2 linked regions of the Homo sapiens genome follow. The protein of the gene in region 1 purifies or fractionates together with the protein of each later gene. This does not show direct contact. Each region holds a gene or a part of one and is shown on either strand. Other genes may lie near its edges.

What was found.
Region 2: the proteins of DHX30 (region 1) and MCMBP purify together in Homo sapiens (affinity purification with mass spectrometry; 2 studies listed by BioGRID and IntAct, with this or other methods). This does not show direct contact.

Annotation. Positions count from the first base shown.
Region 1 is NC_000003.12:47,796,539-47,807,562, reverse strand, and holds the start of DHX30 (ATP-dependent RNA helicase DHX30), read right to left. Parts: upstream 4,426-11,024; 5' UTR 4,351-4,425; intron 4,106-4,350; exon of another isoform or gene 3,833-4,105; intron 2,238-3,832; 5' UTR 2,143-2,237; intron 1-2,142.
Region 2 is NC_000010.11:119,861,260-119,872,410, reverse strand, and holds part of MCMBP (mini-chromosome maintenance complex-binding protein), read left to right. Parts: intron 1-11,151. UniProt on the Homo sapiens protein: Associated component of the MCM complex that acts as a regulator of DNA replication.

The sequences.
Region 1 (11,024 bases):
CGGCTAAATTTTTTTGGATTTTTAGTAGAGATGGGCTTTCATCATGTTGGCCAGGATGGTCTCGATCTCTTGGCCTCATGATCTGCCTGCCTCGGCCTCCCAAAGTGCTGGGATTACAGGCATGAGCCACCGTGCCCGGCCAGTTTTGCTTTTTAAAAGTCCCTAAACCTCTAGCCCAATATGTCAATTTAGGCTCATGTACCATTCTTTTTCCTGTACTAATCTAAAAAAACGATACTATGAGAATCAAGACAGGATCTTTTAGAGACAGAATTTACAGAGCTCTAGAACATTTCATAGAGATCCAAAAGAAAGCGGTCTTCCTTGTAATGCAGTCAGTAATGGTGTTTTGTTTTGAGACAGAGTGTTGCTCTTGTTGCCCAGGCTGGAGTGCAATGGCATGATCTCTGCTCACTACAACCTCCACCTCCCGGATTCAAATGATTCTCCTGTCTCAGTCTCCCTAGTAGCTGGGATTACAGGCACCCGCCACCACGCCTGGCTAATTTTTGTATTTTTGGTAGAGACAGTGTTTCACCATGTTGGCCAGGCTGGACTCGAACTCCTGACCTTGTGATCCGCCCGCCTCAGCCTCCCAAAGTGCTGGGATTACAGGCATCAGCCACCACGACCGGCCATAATGCAGTAATGTTTAAAAATCTTTGTAGTGGGCCAGGCTTGGTGGCTCACGCCTGTAATCCCATCACTTTGGGAGGCTGAGGCAGGCAGATTGCCTGAGGTCAGGAGTTCGAGCCCATTCTGGCCAAGATGGTGAAATCCTGTCTCTACTAAAAATACAAAAAAAATTGGCCAGGCACGCCTGAGCGCAGTGGCTCACTCCTGTAATCCCAGCACTTTGGGAGGCCGAAGCAGGTGGATCACAAAGTCAGGAGTTCGAGACCAGCACGGCCAACATGGTAAAACCCCATCTTCACTAAAAATACAAAAAATTAGCCAGGCGTGGTGGTGCACGCCTGTAGTCCCAGCTACTCAGGAGGCTGAGACAGAAGAATCGCTTGAACCCGGGAGGCGGAGGTTGCAGTGAGCCAAGATTGCACCACTGTACTCCAGCCTGGGTGACAGAGTGAGACTCCATCTCAGAAAAAAAAAAGAAAAAAATTGGCCAGGCACGGTGGCTCACACCTGTAATCCCAGCACTTTCGGAGGCAGAGGCAGGCAGATCACAAGGTCAGGAGTTTGAGGTTAGCCTGACCAAAATGGTGAAACCCCATCTCTACTAAAAATACAAAAATAAGCCAGGCGTGGTGGTGCGCACCTGTAATCCCAGCTACTCAGGAGGCTGAGGCAGGAGAATCGCTTGAACCCAGGAGGCAGAGGTTGCAGTGAGCCAAGATCCCACCACTGCACTCCAACCTGGGCAACAGAGTGAGACTCCCATCTAAAAAAAAAAAAAAAAATACAAAAAAATTAGCCGGGCTTGGTGGCATGAGGCTGAGGCAGGGGAATTGCTTGAACTAAGGAGGTGGAGGTTGCAGTGAGCCAAGATTGCACCACTGCACTCCAGCCTGGGCGACAGGGCAAGACTGTCTCAAAAACAAAAAACCTTGTAGCTCAATGTGTCTCTTAAGTAATTTACAGATAAGTAAAATGCTATTATATCAAGATTTCCTGCATAATGAAATACAATTTAACTCCAGGTAGAGTCACTTGGGGATGGTTCCAGGACAGAGACTCCACAATGACTAAAAATGATACCCTTCTGGCTGGGCACAGTGGCTCATGCCTGTAATCCCAGCACTTTGGGAGGCTGAGGCAGGCTGATCACCTGACGTCAGGGGTTTGAGACCAGCCTGGCCAACATGGTGAAACCCAGTCTCTACTAAAAATACAAAACAATCAGCTGGGCATGGTGGCAGGCGCCTGTAATCTCAGCTACTTGGGAGGCTGAGACAGGAGAATTGCTTGAACCTGGGAGGCAGAGGTTGCAGCAAGCCAAGATCGCGCCACTGCACTCCAGCCTGGGGGACAAAGCGAGACTCTGTCTCAAAAATAAAACAAAATAAAATAAATGATATCCTTCTTCCAAAATGGTCAGAAATAGGTTTAACACATACCTCTTGTTTTACAGTACAGCTGAGCATCAGATCCACCACTGCTCTGTGCACGGCTAAATCAACTTACCTTATAAAAGCAATGACAGTCTCAGATTTTGTAGGCTTTTGAACTGGAGCTGAATTCTCTCCTTGCTATTCCTCATCACGAGGCTGGGCCTCCTCCTGAGAAGTACAACGCTGAGTCAATACAGTGGAGGCCCCATAGGGAAAGAAAGTTGCTCCAACCATCATTTACTAGCTCTAACAAGGACAAATTTTGTTAGTGGCATGAAGGGCACATACTGGACAAAATGGCCTTACAAATCAGGACTTACCATGACCCATTCTAGGCCCATTAAATTGTAAGCTGTCCTACACCAGCACCTGTAGAAGTGCTGAAGTCTTCTGACATCATCTAAGAAGATGTCAAGGTAAAGAAAGCCTTGTAAGCCTGAAAAGCATTTTCTGGAAGCCCAGAGCAAAACCTACTTCCACTTTGAGTTCTAATCCCATAATAATTATGATAATCTAACATAAAGAAGCTATAATACTCTTCAAGATTGGGAAAATAACAATAACTCAAAGTTGAATACCATTTTTACAGTTCACAACATACTTCCATAGACTTTACCCCATTTAATCCAGGCAACTATCCAGTGAGGTAGGAATTATCTTTCCAGAGAAGAAAACTGAAGCACAGGTTACACAACCTGCCCAAGATCCCATAGCTGCCTCAGGGCAGATGGAAATCAGCATTGAAGCATGCTGACTCCAAAACCCTCCATGCTTATACTAGGCTAATTTTCTTATTTCCAGGATATTATGCTGTTGCCTAAATGTACTACGGTTCATTCCTTGAGACATATTATACTGTTATCTTCAAAGGCTGAAAGGGGCAAGAAAGGTCCAACAGCTAATAAAACTTGTGTGTGGTTTTTGTTTTGTTTTGTTTTGAGAAGGAGTTTCGCTCTTGTTGCCCAGGCTGGGGTGAAATGGCGCGATCTTGGCTCACTGCAACCTCGGCCTCCTGGGTTCAAGCAATTCTCTTGCCTCAGCCTCCCAAGTAGCTAGGGTTACAGGCGCACGCCACCATGCCCGGCTAATTTTTGTATTTTTAGTAGAAACGAGGTCTAGCCATGTTGGCCAGGCTGGTCTCAAACTTCTGACCTCAGGTGATCCACCCGCCTCGGCCTCCCAAAGTGCTGGGATTACAGGCGTGAGACACCGCTCCCGGCCCTAATAAAACTTTGTATCACAGCTACATAAATTAAAACACTTGAAGAGCAACTATCTTTTAGGGATAAAGAGCCAACACCGGTAGAAAACGCAGCAAAGGATGTAGTTTCTGCACATCGCCTTAAATCTCTAAGATTTAAGTGTAAATTACAAGATGTAGTTAAAACCCACAATGACAGTGGGGTTACCACCTTGCAAGAAACTTCAAGGGAAATCACCAGACAACGTCTCATTTCACTCTGGCCCATAAGCTGCAACTAAAACCAGGTTGAAAGCCTGTAAGTGGCCTTCTGCAGTCTACCTGCTAGTGTATGGCAAACCCTCATGGAGTGGGGTTGTAAAGTGAAACAGCCTCTGCCTTGAAAAATCATAATTCAAGTGACCAATGTTGCTACACAACGACTAGATATGCCATATCCCTGGCTTAGGGTTTCTGAGGACCCCTGGGACTCCAGTTCACTGCAAACAAAGGACCCAACATGCATTTGGTCTTCCCCTGCTAAATGGGACAAGTTACCACCAGCAAACAAAGAATACCTCACCCCTTGGCCTCCCCCAGTGACAAGGTCGGTGCAAAAGGGGGCAAACTAGGGGGGCCAGAAGGCACCGGGCCTCCCTCTGGACGAACGGTCCGGGCAGCACCGGGAAGGAGGAGAAGTAGACAAAGGTCTCGGGGCACTCAGGAGGCTTCCTCCAGGCCCTGCCTGGGGAAACGGCGCATCCCGAGGCGAAGGCGTCGTTGCGCCAATGAAGCGGCCTCTCCCACGGCCTCCGCGGAGCCCCTGGCTGCGAGGCCCGCCCCGGCGGACCGGTCTGGCCCCCGCCCCCGCCCGGGCTCCATGGCAACGGCAGGCCGAGGCCTGGCTGCCCACGGATCGGCCGGGCCGGCTTCCCGGGCAGGCCTAGGATGCCCGGCCTGCTCCTCGGGCCCGCCGGCGTCTCCGCCCCACTCTCCGCCAGGCTGGCGGTCGGACCGGGCCCCCTCCTCACGACGACCACCCCCGGCCGCGGCAGGCTCCTCAAGAGGGCACGAAAGGGGAGAATAAAAAGCCCAATTCACCTGTTGTTACAGATGTGAAACAAGCCTCTGTGCACCGCGCATGAGCCGCGGCTCCCCCAACCACGGCCGGACTACAACTCCCAGCAGCGGCGGCGCGGCCCCTTCCGAGTCCCGTGGCGGAAGTCCCGCCACCGGCCCGGCGTTCCCCACCCGGCGTCACGGAGCCCGCCTGCGGCGCACGGCTCCGCTCCCCCGCGGGCCTGGAGCCCGGCCCCACCTGGGACTCGTCGTAGCCGCTCGGGGCACCCAGCGCCCGGGATGCCCCAGCACCCGGCCCAATGGGGCGCGGCGGCGGTGCAGGCGGGACTTCCGGCGGAGTCGCGAAGGGGACGGGTTGGCGCCGGCTGCTCTGGGGTCGCAGAGCGAGCGGGTTTGGGTGGCGGGGTCGGGCGTCAAGTTGCTGCCTTTCTCGGCGACTTAGCTGCCTGCAGTGTGAAAGCGGGAAGGGTCTTCTCGCCCTCTGCGAGCCACCCGCGCCTCCTGATGCGAATAAACAGCCCGGGTCATGGCTGAGCGGGGAACGGTTTCCAGCTCGGGCTCCGGGATTCCACCCGCCTTCCCCGCCACAGCTCGTAGCCACGCCTCTTCTCTTCCCCATCTCCCCTCTAATCTGTTTTTTTAGGGAGGTGAGCATTTTTGTCTTGTCTCCCCAGTTTGCAGGGAAGATGAAATCAACGTGTTGGTTCGTTGATTTCGTAAACTGTACAACGTTAGGCAAAGGACAAGGTGGCACTTGCTGGTCGCGGGGAGAGTGCCAGTCATAGTTGCTGGAAATCTGGAGGTCCGCCCGGCCACATCACCTCTTAGGAATGAGAAAGGGGATTGTCCCAATTACACGCTGTAGTCCTCTAGATAAGGTTCAAGTATAGGTTCAGTGGAATTCAGCTTCAAAAGGAAACAACGCAGTGGCGTAGCTCTGAAGCTGGGTCAGGATTTTACAGAGTATGGTTTTAAGATGTGGCCTTTAGGCCGGGCGTGGTGGCTCACGCCTGTAATCCCAGCACTTTGGGAGGCCAAGGCGGGTGGATCACCTGCGGTCAGGAGTTCAAAACCAGCCTGGCCAACATGGTGAAACCCCGTCTCAACTAAAAATGCAAAAAAATTAGCTGGGCGTGGTGGCGGGCGCATATAATCCTAGCTACTTCGGGAGGCTGAGGCAGGAGAATCACTTGAACCCGGGAGGCGGATGTTGCAGTAAGCCGAGATCGTGTCATTGAACTCCAGCCTGGGCGACAAGAATGAAACTTAAAAAAAAAAAAAAAAAAAGATGTGACCTTTGAGGCTGTATGAAGAATTAGTGCCATATCCCGTCACTTTTGTGTGCAAACAGTTCAACATGTATCTCTTTTCTTTCTCTCTACATTGGCTAGAAGACCGGGGTGTGGGGGTGGAACATCATTTATTCATTCAAATAATTAGTGCATCTGAACAGGGCATGGTGCTGTGTTGTGTGGAGAATAGAGAGATCCCTGCACGGACATCTGAGTGCTCTGTGTATCAGTTGCTAAGCTGGTGTGGAGGCTACAAAGGCCCTGCCTCAAGGGACTTAGAGCCTAGTAGAGAAGATGACAACATTGTGTGAAGGAAATGGAAAGTGGTAAATGCTGGAAAGGAGGTATTAGGTACTCCAAGAGTTCAGAGAAAGGAGTGGTTACTCCTGAATGGCAAAATGAAAGGAACGTGAACAAAGACATACGAGTGGAACAAGGGACAAATCCTAGGAATATTCAGTAGTTCAGTGTGACCACAGGGTTGGATGTGTGTGCAAGCTTTACAGGAAATAGAACTGAAAAACTGTTGGGGAGTGCCATACTAAGGAATTTTTACTTTTTTTGGTAAGACATTTAAAAAATTATTAGGAGAGTAAAATACTGCACTTTTTTGTTGTTGTTGAGACAGAGTCTCTACTCAGTCACCCAGGCTGGAGTGCAGTGGGGTGGTTGCGGCTCACTGCAACCTCTACCTCCCACGTTCAAGCGATTCTCCTGCCTCAGCCTCCCAAGTAGCTGGAATTACAGGTGTGCACTACCATGCCCAGCTCATTTTTGTATTTTTACTAGGGATGGTTTCACCATGTTGGCCAGGCTGGCCTCGAACTCTTGGCCTCAAGTGGTCCACACACTTTGGCCTCCCAAAGTGTTGGGATTACAGGCGTGAGCCACCACGCTGGGCCAATACTGTAATTTAGAAAGCTTCCTCTGGAAGTGAAAGGGTTGAATCAGCTGGGAAAATAGAAACTAGCATGCTAATTAGATCCCGAGAGAGAATGAAAGATTTAACTCAACAGTGAGAAAAGCAAGAAAGAAAAAAAAGGGGGGGTGACTGTTGAGCAGCAGACTGAGCCCAGGCCACAAGTGTGTGGAGAGATGACTTTGAGATCTGTACCATAGTGACTGAAAGGATTATGTACTATTAACATAATTAAGGGACACAAGAGTTGGAAAAGATGATGGATTCAGCTTCACTCAGATTATGTTTGCAATGTTGTTGGGAAAGTTAAGTGATAAAGTCGTGGTCCCTGCTCCAAAGAAAGTTATAGTCTGGTAGAGAGGATGAGAATAGCATGCAAATGTCTTTTTTTTGTTGTTTTTTTTTTGAGACAGGGTCTCACTCTGTCACCCAGGCTGGAGTGCAGTGGCACCATCATGGCTTATTGCAGCCTTAACCTCCCAGGCTCAATTAATCCTCCCTCCTCAGTTTCCTGAGTAGCTGGGACTACAGGCACATGCCACCACGCCCAGATAATTTTTTATTTTTTGTAGAGAAAGGGTCTCACTATGATACCCTAGGTTGACCTCAAACTCCTGGCCTCAAGCGATCCTCCCACTTCAGCCTCCCAAACTCCTGAGATTACAGGTGTGACCCACTATGCCCAGCCACAAATAAATCAAGACCTAAGGCCAGGTGTGGTGGCTCATGCCTGTAATCCCAGCACTTTGGAGGCCCAGGCAGGCGGGTCACCTGAGGTCAGGAGTTCAAGACCAGCCTGACCAACATGGAGAAACCCCATCTCTACTAAAAATACACAATTAATCGGGCATGGTGGCACATGCCTGTAATCCCAGTTACTCGGGAGGCTGAGGCAGGAGAATCACTTGAACCCAAGAGGCGGAGGTTGCAGTGAGCCAAGATCATGCCATTGCACTCAGCCTGGGCAACAAGTGCGAAACTCCATCTCAAAACAAACAAACAAACAAACAAAAAAACAAAAATTCAAGACCAAGTGGATGCACTCCAAAAGAGGCTCCTGTAGGCCAGTAGGGGGCAAAATACTTGAATAGACATCTCCCACAGGCACAGTGGCTCAAGCCTGAAATCCCAGCCCTTCAGGAGGCTGAGATGGGCAGGTCAGTTGAGCCCAGGAATTTGAGATCAGCCTGGGCAACAAGGCGAGACTCCTCTCTACAAAAATACTAAAAGTAGCTGGGTTTGGTGACATGCGCCTGTAGTCCCAGCTGCTCAGGAGGATAACATGGGAGGATCGGCCAGACGTGGTGGCTCATGCCTGTAATCCCAGCACTTTGGGAAGCCAAGGCAGGCGAATCACAAGATCAGGAGTTCGAGACCAGCCTGACCAACATGGTGAAACCCTGTCTCTACTAAAATACAAAAATTAGCCGGGCGTGGTGGCACATGCCTGTAATCCCAGCTGTTCAGGAGGCTGAGGCAGGAGAATCGCTTGAACCTGCGAGGTAGAGTTTGCAGTGAGCCGAGATCACGCCATTGCACTCTAACCTGGGCAACGGAGCGAGACTCCGTCTCAAAAAAAGAAAAAAAAAAAAGTTGGGAGGATCAATTGAATTGGGAAGATGAAGGTTGCAGTGAGCTGAGATCACACCACCGCACTCCAGAATGGGCGACAGAGTGAGACCCTGTCTCATAAAAAAAAAAAAAAGAAAAGGCCAGGCGCAGTAGCTCACACCTGTAATCTCAGCACTTTGGGAGGCCGAGGTGGGTGGATCACCTGAGGTCAGGAGTTTGAGACCAGCCTGGCCAACATGGGGAAACCCGAACTCTACTAAAAATACGAAAATAAGCCGGGCGTGGTGGCTCACGCTCGTGATCCCAGCTACTCGAGAAGCTGAGGCAGGAGAATCACTGGAACCTGGGAGGCAGAGGTTGCAGTAAGCTGATATCGCAACACTGCACTCCAGCCTGGGTGACAGAGTGAGACTACGTCTCAAAAAAAAAAAAAAAGGAAAGGAAGAAAATTTTTGCCCAGAGCAGTAGTTCATGCCTGTAATCCCAGCCTTTGGGAGGCTGAGTCCTGCAGATTGCTTGAGCCCAGGAGTTCGAGACCAGTCTGAGCAACAATGGTAAGACCCCATCTATACAAAAAATTGAAAAAATTTATCCAGGCATTGTGGTACATACCTGTAGTCTCAGCTACTCAGGAAGCTGAGGTAGGAAAATTGCCTGAGCCCAGGAGGTCGAGGCTGCAGTAAACTGTGATCCTGCCATTGCACTCCGGCCTGGGTGACAGAGCAAGACAGCCACCTTTAACTCTGTCTTTAACATGGCTGTTTTTCTGTGTGTGCAAAGAGAAGGGTCTCTGGTGACCCTTCCCCTACTTATAAAGACACAGTCCTATCTGATTGGGGGCCTGCCCTTATGTCCACATGTAACCTTAACTACCTCTCTAAAGGCCCTATTTCCAAATGCAGTCACAGTTGAGGGTTAGGGCTTCAGTATATGAATTTTGAAGGACACAATTCAGTCCGTGACATCAATTTAATGAAATAATATGCAGCAATCAAAAAGAATGAGTTAGGACAGGTGTGGTGGCTCACGCTTGGAATCCCGGCACTGGGAGGCTGAGGCGGGCGGATCACTTAAGGTCAAGAAGAGTTCGAGACCAGCCTGGCCAACGTGGTGAAACCCCATCGCTACTAAAAATATAAAAATTAGCTGGGCGTGGTGGTGGGCGCCTGTAATCCCAGCTACTTGGGAGGCTGAGGCAGGAGAATTGCTTGAACCCAGGAGGCGGAGGTTGCTACGAGCGGAGATTACGCCACTGCACTCCAACTTGGGTGACAGAGTGAGACTGTCTCAAAAAAAAAAAAAAAGAACAAGTTAGATCAAATGTACAGACATGGAAAAATTTGAAGGAAATATTGGGGTTTTTTTGTTTGGATTTTTTGAAACAGTGTCTTGCTCCATCGCCCAGACTAGAATGCAGCGGCGCGGCGCAATCATAGATCACTGCAGCCTCAAGCTCCTGGGCTAAAGTAGTCCTCCCACTTCAGTAATCAGAATAGCTAGGACTACAGGCAGGTGCCACCAAGCCTGGCTTTTTTTTTTTTTTTCTTTTTTGAGATGGAGTCTCCCTCTGTCACCCAGGCTGGAATGCAGTGGTGCGATCTCGGCTCACTGCAACTTCTGCCTCCCAGGTTCAAGTGATTCTCCTGCTTCAACCTCCTGAGTAGCTGGGATTACAGGCGCCCGCCACCATGCCTGGCTAATTTTTGTATTTTTAGTAGAGACAGGGTTTCACCATGTTGGCCAGGCTAGTCTCAAACTCCTGACCCTAACTATCTGCCCACCACGGTCTCCCAAAGTGCTGAGATTACAGGCGTGAGTCACCCACCCAGCATTTTTTTTTTCTTTTGAGAGAAGGTCTCTCTCTGTCATCCACGCTGGAATGCAGTGGTGGGATCTCAGCTCACTGCAACCTTGACCTCCTGGGCTCAAGCAGTCCTCTCACCTCAGCCTCTGGAGTAGTAGAGACTATGGGCATGCACCAGGTCTGGCTAATTTTTGTGTTTTTTGTAGAGATGGGTTTTACCATGTTGTCCTGGCTGCTCCTTTTGCTGTGATTACGGTTTTGTTTTGTTTTGTTTTGTCTCTGACCCAGGAGTCTTGTTTCTACCGGCATGGAAGAAATAGTAGCAGGCTCACTAACAGCTTGTAAGTAGGGTAAAATTCCAGACCTGCATCTACACAGTTCCTCACAGTATAATGAACACCCGTATTACCCATCACCCAGCTTCAGGGATTATCAACTGAAGGCCAACCTTGCCTTATCTATAGGTCCCCATGTCCTAATGCCCAACAGATTTTAAAAAATCATACCACTTCATCTGTAAATATAACAGGGTGCATCTCTACAAGATTCCTACTTTTTCAGCATAACCATAAAACCAATATCATACCTTCAAAAGCTAGTAAATCCTTAGTATTATTGCAAAATTCCTAACAATAGTAACAATAGATAAATTCTTTTTTTTTTCTTTTTGAGACAGAGTCTTGCTCTATCGCCCAGGCTGGAGTGCAGTGGTGTGATCTCGGCTCACTGCAAGCCCCGCCTCCCTGGTTCACGCCATTCTCCTGCCTCAGCCCCCTGAGTAGCTGGGATTACAGGCATGTGCCACCACGCCTGGCTAATTTTGTATTTTTAGTAGAGATGGGTTTCTCCATGTTGGTCAGGCTCATCTCAAACTCCCAACCTCAGGTGATCCACCTGCCTCAGCCTCCCAAAGTGCTGGGATTACAGGCAAGAGCCACCAAGCCCTGCCTTTTTTTTTTTTTTTTTTTTTAACACTCAGTCTCACTTTGTTACCCAAGCTGGAGTGCAGTGGCGCGATCTCAGCTCACTGCAACTGCCGCCTCCCAGGTTCAAGCGATTCTCCTGCCTCAGCCTCCTGAGTAGCTGGGACTACAGGCACGTGACACCA
Region 2 (11,151 bases), on another chromosome or scaffold:
GACGGGGCCCCGGGGCCTGCACCGGCCCCAGCTGGGACAGCCTCTCCCCCGGTCGCAGCAGGCAGGGGCAGGAGCCGGGCCGCAGGTACCTCCCACCTGCCCGAGTCGCAGCTTGGGAGCCGCCAAGGTGAAGTCGTGGGGCGCGGGCTGTGATTCGCGGGCTGTGATTGACGGCCTCGCTCCCAGCCTGTGGCAGGGCCAGGGCCCCGGCCCCGGGCGCAGCAAACTCGGAGGTCCTCGAACCCTGGGGAGGGCCCGCAGAGCCGCGGGGAGGGAAAACCACTTTGCCTGTGGGAAGCCCACAGGATATTTCAAAACTTCCGGTGCGTCGGGGAGTGCTCGCTTGCACAGAAGTTGGTTCTAACTCCTGTGCTACCCTCATTCTCTCTTTCAGAGATAAGATTTAATGTTCATAGCTTAGTTTTCCTGTTGGGATGACTTTAGAACCCATCTAGTCTGGATCTGCTCCTGTGCCAGAGCCAGCAAGAAATATTGAGCTACTTGAGTTTGTACACAGGGCTGAGAATCCTGCAGGCGAGCTTAGTAAATTTTGGTTGCGATTGCTGTTGCTACTTTACTGCGAAGGGTATACGAAGAAAAGTTTATATTTGTTGTCGTTAACTGGGCATTTTGACAACCGTTCCATTCCCCAGTGTCTTTTTACACGTAATGAGTGGCGGAGTCAGATCCAGCTAGAAATCACTGTAGATGGCAACACCTGACTTGTCTGGAGTTAACTTAGAGTTGTAGAGCGGCCTTAGCTCATTGAAAAAAACATCTTGGGGTACTAGAGAGAAAAGGCAGTGGGAAGCTAAATCATCCTCAGCAGCCAAAATCGACGGCAAACAATGTATGGTATTTCTTATAGGAGGGCCTCTAGTGCTTACTCAGGAAGTCCTTATTAATTTACCTGTAATTCTAATTAGTTTAGTTACCTGGCTTCCCAGGCTGTAACTAATGGCATTATATTAGAAAAAAGCCTGGATAGACGTCCGAACTTAGCCAGTGAACACTGACAGCCTGATGAAGAAATTTAAAACTACCTTCATACTTGAAAAAAAAAAAAATTCACTATATAGCAGTCAAGGGTGCTTTGAGGAAGGGGCATATATTTCTCCACTAAATCCTAGTAATTTATGTTCATAAGAATTCTAGAAATGATAATCGATGGTCAACACAATGGCCCCAAAATGTCAAGTGAAGATTCAATTGTAGCATTGGTTTAAGAGGGTGCAGATGCATAGATACTTTTTAGGAAAAATCCCTCCAAAGTAAAAAGGTTTGGTGCTTAAAGGGTTAAATTTCAGTTACTAATATTAGAAAGTTTATTTATTAGAAATACCCCATACTCTGATTTTGCTGGATAAATGAGATGATTTCATATTTGATAGAGATTTGAATGTATTTGTGTCAAATTTTGTCTTCTAAATGTATGATCCTAAGGGACACATCTCATCATAGTACAGGAAGGATGTAACTTAGATATAAAATAATAGCTTCAGAGTATTTTATAAATTATGTGGATTGTTGTGGGAACCTGAGAAGTTTCTTGATGTGTTTCTCCCCAGAATGTCTTGTTCCCGTGTACGTTGTGTCTTATAGAAAAGTCATAATGTGTTCGTAGAAGCTGTTGCTATATTTTCGTATCACTGTGATTGTATTGCATATCTTTATTATAACAGCATTACAAGTATGTTTGTGTGATAACTTATAGGCACTTTTTGGTTTAGTAGGAAATTGTTTTCCCCCCAGATAGGTAATGCATATGCATTGTACAGAAAGAAAAAAGCAGTTCAGCAACATATAGCAGAAAAGGAAAGATCTTTGAAGATCCTTCACCTTCAAGATAACCACTGGTTCGTGGTTGTGTAGTTTATTTTCTCTGCATATATTTAGACAGTTTTTTTAAACTGAAAAGTTAAGTTTTGTTGTGTATTTTATTTTGAAATATGCATTTTTTTTTTTTGAGACAGTCTCGCACTGTCACCCAGGCTGGAGTGCAGTAGCGCAATCTCGGCTCACTGCAACCTCCGCCTCCTGGGTTGAAGCGATTCTCCTGCCCCAGCCTCCGGAGTAGCTGAGACTATAGGCCCGCGCCACCACGCCCGGCTAATTTTTGTATTTTTAGTAGAGACGGGGTTTCACAGTGTTGGCCAGGATGGTCTAGATCTCTTGACCTCGTGATCCGCCCGCCTCGGCCTCTCAAAGTGCTGGGATTACAGGCGTGAGCCACTGCATCCAGCAGCCTGAATTTTTCCCTTTCTTACTGTCCTTGTCATATAGTATTGTATAAACTTATTAACCCTGTCATATATTTTAAGTTAGGTGTCACAATAATCTAGAGTGTGCTGTCCAGGGCAGTAGCCATGTGTGGCTATTTAAATGTAAATTAATTAAAATTACACAAAATTAAAAATTCACCTCCTCGGTGTTAGCACATTTCAAGTGCTCAGTAGCTACATGTGGATAGGGGCTATTATATTAGCACAGATCTAGCATATTCCTAACATCAGGAAGTTCTCTGTACAGCACTGATCTAGAGGACACCGCTTTTTAGTATGTGATGCTAGTTTTTTTGGATAACCAGCTACTCACTGACTCTCTTTCAGGATCTGAATTTGGTCACTGTATCTTATCCGTTCTAGGGGTTTTGTTTTTGTTTTTGCTTTTTTTGTTTTTGAGATGGAGTTTCGTTCTTGTCACCCAGGCTGGAGTGCAACAGTGTGATCTCGGCTCACTGCAACCTCCTCCTCCCAGGTTCAAGCAATTCTGCCTCAGCCTCTGGAGTAGCTGGGATTACAAGTGCCTGCCACCATGCCCAGCTAATTTTTTTTTTTTTGAGACTGAGTCTTGCTCTGTCACTCAGGCTAGGGCGCAGTGTTACAATCTTGGCTCACTGCAGCCTCTGCCTCTTGGGTTCAAGTGATTCTCCTGCCTCAGCCCCCTGAGTAGCTGGGATTACAGGTGCATGCCACCATGCCCAGCTAATTTTTGTATTTTTAGTAAAGACAGGGTTTCACCATGTTGGCCAGGCTGGTCTTGAACTCCTGACCTAGTGATCCGCCCACCTTGGCCTCCCAAAGTGCTGGGATTGTAGGCGTGAGCCACCACACCGAGCCGCTAATTTTTGTATTTTTAGTAGAGACAGGATTTCACCATGTTAGCAAGGCTGGTCTCGAACAGGTGATCTGCCTGCCTCGGCCTCTCAAAGTGCTGGGATTATAGGCGTGAGCCACCGCGCCCGACCCAGACCCTCATCTCCAATGCTACTGTCAAAATTAAAGCCATCGTAGTCTCTTTCCTGGACGCTGGAACAGCCCTCTAACTGGTTTCTTGCCTCCAGTCTTGCTTCTCTTCCACCTGCCATACTGGAACCAAGTCCTTCAGTGACTTCTTGTTACCCTTACTATCTGATCCAGGACTTTTAAAGTGGTTTATGAGGCCCTTGTTGGCTCCACCCTTGCCTTGCTCTGAGACTTTATCACTGCGTACCCCCTCCTCATACTCCATCCCAGCCGCACTGAACCTTTTTTCAGTTCTTTAATTTTGAACCTGTGTCTAGGCCTTTTTGCATCTGCTGATTTCTTGTGCCTGATTCCCCCTCCCATCCCATGTCCACTTTTCTGGCTAAGTCTTACTTTTCCTTTGGGAACTTAAGTTAGGTACCAAAGTAGGGTACCCCTGCTCCATGTTACTGCAGGATCCTATTATATATGTCTTTGAAAAATAGTGTGTAAAGTGCATTGTTGAAATTCCTTGTTTCGGAAGTTCCTTTGCTGGATTTTGACCCCGCGAATTCAGGGCCCCTGTATCTGCATTATTCACCACTGTATCCTAATTTCTTAGAATTTGCCTTGTACATTGAAAGTGCTCAGTGGACACTTGTTGAACAAAAGCAGTGAAAAGACTGATTAATCAGAAATGTTGTTAATTGAAATGGCTAGTGAGATCACAAATCTCAAAATTTTTCTTTTCTTTTTTTCTGGAGTCAGTGTCTTGCTCTGTTGCCCAGGGTGGAGTGCAGTGGCGTGATCTCGGCTCACTGCAACCTCCGCCTTCTGGGTTCAAGCCATTCTCATGCCTCAGCCTCTCGAGTAGCTGGGATTAAAAGTGTGCACCACCATGCCTGGCTAATTTTTCTATTTTTAATAGAGACAGGGTTTTGCCATGTTGGCCAGGCTGGTCTTGAACTCCTGGCCTCAAGTGATCTGCCCCCACTTGGCCTCCCAGAGTGCTGAGATCTCAGGTGTGAGCTGCTGCGCCCAGCCTCTTTAGCTGTTTTCCCTTCAACTATTGGTTAGACCAAGATCATTATTCTCGTTATATTTAAGCTTCTTTGGTTGTATCTAACAGAACTAGACTAGCTCATGCAAAAAAGAGCAGGGTTGGGTGAAGAGGGGCAGAGCAGACTATTTTATCACTAGCATTTTAGAGAATTTAAAGCAATAATAAAATGAACTAAAAGTTAGTTGGTCTGCTTTTTATTATCACCATGAATCTAAACAGACAATCTGTGCCCTTATTGTCTGTACCCAGCTTGGACCTCTTCTACCACTCTGTCCTTGGTAGGCCACTGAAAAAAGTTAATTTATATTAAGGCTATAAAACCCAAGAACAGGGGAAGTGGTTGGGTATTCGAAGAGACTGAGTGGAATCAGGAACTGGAAAGCTAGCAGGAATCCAAGCAACTCAGTATTTCTTCTCTTGGGATACATTAATCTCTGCACACTTTCTCTTTCTCTACTCCATGTCTCCCAAATTTACTTGTTCTCGGTTCCAACCCACGCTAGCTAGCATCTTTATTTTCAGGCATAGAAAATCTGATTGGCACAACATGGAGTCAGGAATCCATTCACTCAGGGATCAGTCATCTGTGGCCATGGCACAGAGTTAGGTAGGACAATCGTGACTGTTATCCACACCTCAACATTGGGGGCGTTCTCAAAGAAGAAGAATAGCTCCGGCAGCCATGGCAGATGGCATACGTAGGAGTTTTTAAGTTATAATAACTTACACATGGTTTTAAAAAAAATCAACATGATGGTATGAACTGAGTGAAAGTACGTGCTCCCTCCATTGAAGTAACCACTTTTTTTTTTTTTTTTTTTTTTTTTTTTTGAGATGGAGTCTCGCTCTGTCGCCCAGGCTGGAGGGCAGTGGTGCGATTTCGGCTCACTGCAACCTCTCCCTCCCAGGTTCAAGCGATTCTCATGCCTCAGCCTCTTGAGTAGCTGGGACTACAGGCGACCACCACCACACCTGGCTAATTTTTGCATTTTTAGTAGAGTCGGGGCTTCACCGTGTTGGCCAGGATGGTCTCGACCTCCTCTGCCCTCGTGATCCACCACCCTCGGCCTCCCAAAGTGCTGGGATTAGAGGCATGAGCCACCGTGCCCTGCCTGAAGTAACCGCTTTTAACTGTTTTTGCTTTTAGAGGTTTTTTTCTTTGAGACAGAGTCTCGCTCTGTCACCCAGGCTAGAGTGCAGTGGCACGATCTCTGCTCACTGCAACCTCTACCTCCCAGGTTCAAGCAGTTCTACTGCCTCAGCCTCCCGAGTAGTTGGGACTACAGGCGCCTGCCACCACACCCAGCTAACTTTTTGTATTTTCGTAGAGATGGTGTTTCACTATGTTGCTCAGGCTGGTCCAAAAAAATTTTTTTTCTTTGAAATAAAATTCACATAACAAAATTTAACATTTTAAAATGTACAATTGAATTTTTTTTACTGTATTCATAATGATGTTGTGCAACCATCACCACCACTATCTTTTTCTCTTTTTTTTGAGACGGAGTCTCACTCTGTTGCCCAGGCTGGAGTGCAGTGGTGCAAACTTGGCTCACTGCAACCTCTGCTTACCGGGTTCAAGCGATTCTCTTGCCTCAGCCTCCCAAGTAGCTGGGATCACAAGCATGCACCACCATTCCTGGCTAATTTTTGTATTTTTAGTAGAGACGGAGTTTTACCATGTTGGTCAGGCTGCTCTTGAACTCCTGATCTCAGGTGATCCACACGCCTCGGCCTCCCAAAGTGTTGGGATTACAGGCATGAGCCACCACGCCCGGCCACCCCTATCATTTTCATCACTCCAAAAAGAAACCCCATACCTTTAGTAGTCTCTCCCATTTCTTCTGTCTTCCATCTCTGGCAACAACTATACTTCTGCCCATGGATTTACCTATTCTGGACGTTTCGTGTAGGTGGAATTATACAACATGTGGCCTTTGAGGTCTGGCTTCTTTTCATTTACCATGATATTTTCATGGTTCATCCATGTCATAGTATGCATCAGTACTGCATTCCTTTTTTTTTTTTTTTTAAGAGATAGAGCCTGGCTCTGTCGTCCAGGCTGGAATGCTGTGTGGCAAGATCATGGTTCACCGCAGCCTTGAACTTCCAGTCTCAAGTGATCCTGCAGCCTCAGCTTCCTGAGTAGCTGGGACTACAGGCATGTATTACCTGTATTACCACACCCAGCTAATTTTTAAATCATTTTTTGTAGATTTGGGGTCTCACTATGTTGCCCAGGCTACACTCAAACTCCTGGCCTCAAGTGACCCTCCCGCCTCGGCCTCCCAAAGTGCTGGGATTACAGATGTGAGCCACTGTACCCAGTCTGCATTCCTTTTTATGGCTGAAAATAACATTCCATTGTATGTCTATACTGCATTTTGTTTATCCATATATTTGCTGATGGACACTTAGGTTATTTCCTGGCTGTTATAAATACTGCTACTATAAACATTCATGTACAAGTTTTTGTGTGAATGTAAGCTTTTTGGTTCTTTCCCAGATATACCTAGGGATGGAATTGCAAGGTCATATGATAATTTTATATTTAACTTTTTGAGGAATTGCCAAACTTTTCCACAGTGGCTGCACCATTTTACTTCCCAGGTTCAAGCAATTCTCCTGCCTCAGCCTCCCAAGTAGCTGGGATTACAGGTACCACCAGCAAGCCCAGCTAACTTTTGTATTTTTAGTAGAGATGAGGTTTCACCATGTTGGCCAGGCTGGTCTCAAACTACTGATCTCAGGTAATCTGCCTGCCTTGGCCTCCCTAAGTGCTGGGATTACGGGCATAAGCCACTACGCCTGGCCTAAAATGTTTTTAAGAAAGGTTGTGTGAGAAGAGAACAAGAGGCACATTATATAATGTTAAAACAGTCAGTTCACCAAGAAGACCTAACTATATATGCACCAAGCAACAGAGCTTCAAAATGTATGATGCAAAAACCAGCAGAAATAAAAGAAGAAATAGGCAAATCTGCAATTGTAGTTAGATATTTTACTACTCCTCTCTCAGTACTTGACAGAATAGTGGGTAGAAAATCAAAAAGAATACTGAACAACACAAAACTACACAACACTGTCAACCAAGTAGATCTAATTGACATTTGTTTACCTAATGACAGCAGAATACACATTCTTTTCAAGTGCACATGTAAATTCACCAAGATAAACCACATTCTGGGTCATAAACCAAATAGTAAACTTTATATATAAGAAGAACACTTCTAAACAATCCATGGATTAAAAACTCTCAAAGGAAAGCTTTGAATATTGTGAACTAAACCAAAATGAAAACTCAACATACCAAAATTTGTGGGATACAGCCAAAGACATGCTTAGATGCATTAGCTGCCTTAATTAGAAGAGAAGGTCTCAAGTGAATAATTTAAGCTTCCACCTATGAAACTAGAAATGAAGAGCAAAATAAACCCAAATTAAACAGAAGAAAGAAATAATAGAGAACAAAAATCCATGAAATAGAAAACAGAAAAAAAAGAAAAAATCAGTGAAACTCAAAGCTCTTTAAAAAAAAAATCAATAAAATTGTAAACCTCTAGCCATACTGGCAAAGGAAAAAAAAAAAGGAAAACAAATTACCAATAGTAGAAAAGAAAAAAAGGAAGACAAATTACCAATATTAGAAAAGAAAGAGGAGATAACCACCGTAGACTGTACAGGCATGAAAAGGATAATACAAACAGCTCTACAGATAGAAATTCATCAACTTAGATGAAATGGACCAGTTCCTCAAAAACCACTGTATTAGCTTTCTATTTCTCCTGTAATAAATTACAAATGTAGTGACTTTAAAACAAAAGGTTTTTATTTACAGTCCTGGAGACAGAAGTCTGACATGGGTCTTACTGGGATAAAATCAAATTGTTGACAGGACTTGCATTCCATTGTGGAGGCTTTAGGAGAGAATCTGTTCCTTTTCTTTTCCTGCATCTAGAGTCTGCCCACATTTCTTGGCTTGTGGCCCCCTTCCGTTTTCAAAGACAACAAGTCGAGTTGTTCTCACATCTTACTCTAACTTCCTCTTTTGCCACATCCTTCCACATTTAAGGACCGTTGTGATTACATTGAACCCACCCAGATTGTTTTTTTTTTTAAGTTCAACTGATTATTAACCTTAATTCCATCTGCTACCTTAATTCCTATGTAACATATCTTTACAAGTTCTGGGGATTAGAACATCAGTATCTTGGTTGGGTGGGAGGGGGTCATTATTCTGCTGATCACAGCCACAAACTATCCAAACTCACCCAAGTAGAATAATATTTCACCTTTTACGTCTGGCTTATCTCACTTAGCATAATGTTTTCAAGGTTTATTCCTGTGTCTTCGTTGCTTTTTTTTTTTTTTTTTTTTTTTTTTTTTTTTTTTTTTGAGTCTGAGCCTCACTCTGTCTCCCAGGCTGGAGTGCAGTGGTGCGATCTCAGCTCACTGAAACCTCCGCCTCCTGGGTTCAAGCAATTCTCCTGTCTCACCCTCCCGAGTAGCTGGGATTACAGGCGTGTGCCACCACGCCCGGCTAATTTTTGTATTTTTAGTAGAGACGGGGGTTTGCCATGTTGGCCAGGCTGGTCTTGAACTCCTGACAGGTGATCCGCCCGCCTCGGCCTCCCAAAGTGCTGGGATTACAGGCGTGAGCCACCCCGCCTGGCCCTCGCTGCATTTTAATAAAGATACAAAAGCTAATTCAAATGGAAAAAGGATATTCTTTTCATCAAAGACATGAACAATTTAACATTTACATGGAAAAATAAAATCCTCAACCTTTACCTCATATTTTATATAAAATTAACTCAAAATGGATCATACATCTGAGTATAAAACCTGAAACTATAAAACTTTTAGAAGAAAACAGATCTTTGTGACCTGGGGTTTGGCAATGAGTTCTTAAGACATGACACCGAAGGCACAGTGCGTAAAACAAAAATTTGATAAATTGGGCTTCATCAAAATTAAAAACCTTTGTTCTGTAAAAAAAAATTCTATTAGGAGCATGAAAAGACAAGCTATACACTGGGAGAATATATTTGAAAATCCGGTATCAGAAAAAGAACTTGAATCCAGAATATATAAGAAAACACAGCAGTAATTTAAAAACTCAATTTTAAAAGGGGCAAAAGATTTAAGTAGGCTTAAATAGACATTTCACCAGATAGGATACAAGGATGGCAAATATCCCCCTGAGAAGAGTTCAGCATTGTTAGCCATTAGGGAAATGCAAATTTAAGCCATGATATTGCATATTAGAACAGCTAAAATTTAAAAATACATAGTGATAGTACTAAGTACTGGCAAGGATGGGAACAGCTGGATCTCTTAGCAAAATGGTGCAGCCACTCTGGAAGACAGGTAGAATCTTAATCATACATTTACCATGTACTCAACTGTGTCATATCTAGATACTCATTCTAGAGAAATGAAAGCTCATGTTCACATGAAAACCTGCAGACACGTGTTTTATAGTTTTGTTTATAGTTGTCAAACCTGAAGACAATCTAAATGTCCTTCAGCAAGCAAATACATAAACAAATTGGTTGTTATTCAGAGGAATAATAGGAATAAAAAGAAATGAAGTATTGATATACAAATGTGTTGGGGAGTCCTATAACCACCCATATGCTTGAAGATTTACTAGGACTTATATGATTCACTGTATAGTTGTACTCCTCCTAAGATTTATTGCAGCAATATGGTAAGGATACATAGTTGGATCCTAAGGACACACATGGAGTCTGGAGGAATCCAGTGTCTTGATAATTTTTTCTTTTTGCGTGGTGGAGGAGGTGGTGTGGGGGGGGACGAAGATTCACTCTAGTCGCCCAGGCTGGAGTGCAATGGGGCAATCTTGGCCCACTGCAACCTCCACCTCCCAGGTTCAAGCGATTCTCCTGCCTCAGCCTCCCAAGTAGCTGGGATTACAGGCGCACACCATCACGCCTAGCTAATTTTTGTATTTTTAGTAGAAAAGGGGTTTCATCATATTGACCAGACTTGTCTCGAACTCCTGACCTCAGGTGATCCGCCTGCCTTGGCCTCCCAAAGTGCTGGAATTACAGGTGTGAGCCACCGCACCCAGCCAAGAGGATTTTTTCATTTTAAGTGCAGAGGCAGGAGGATCGATCACTTGAGCCCAGGAGTTCCAGACCAACCTGGACAACATAGGGAGACCTCCATCTCTACAAAAAGATTTAAAAATTAGCCAGGCGTGGTGGCCCGTGCCTGTGGTCCCAGCTACGCAGGAGACTGAGGCCAGAGGATCACTTGAGCCCAGGAAATTAAGGTTGCAGTGAGCCAGGATCACACCACTGTACTCCATCCTGGGTGACAAAGCAACACAACACCCTGCCTGAAAAAAGAAAATTGCATTTATATACATTCAAGTAACTTAGAAATAACTTGCTGCTCCCCAGTCACTGCTTGATGTAGCTTTACTATTTGTTATGTGGTATTCTCACGTCTTTTACACAATTGCAGGCAGAATAGTTGGTGTGGCAGTCGTGGCTGTGTAATAGTCTTTTCTTTAAACATCCATTTTGAATACAAGCGAAAATACCCACTTATCTTTTACCCAATTCACTGTATCTAGTAGAGCAGCGATTCTTAAACTTCAATGTGCATTATAGTCAGTCACATAGAGGGCTTTTTAAAATATGAATTGCTAGGCCCCACCCCTAAGAGTTTCTGATTCTGTGGTTCGGGGTTGGGCTGAATAATTTGCATTTCTAACAAGTACTCAGATGATGCTAATGATGCTGGTCAGGGAACCAACTTTGAGGACTAGTTTGTTAGTGGATTTAACGCCTACACATTAGTATCACCTGAGGAGTCCCCCATCCCTACTTC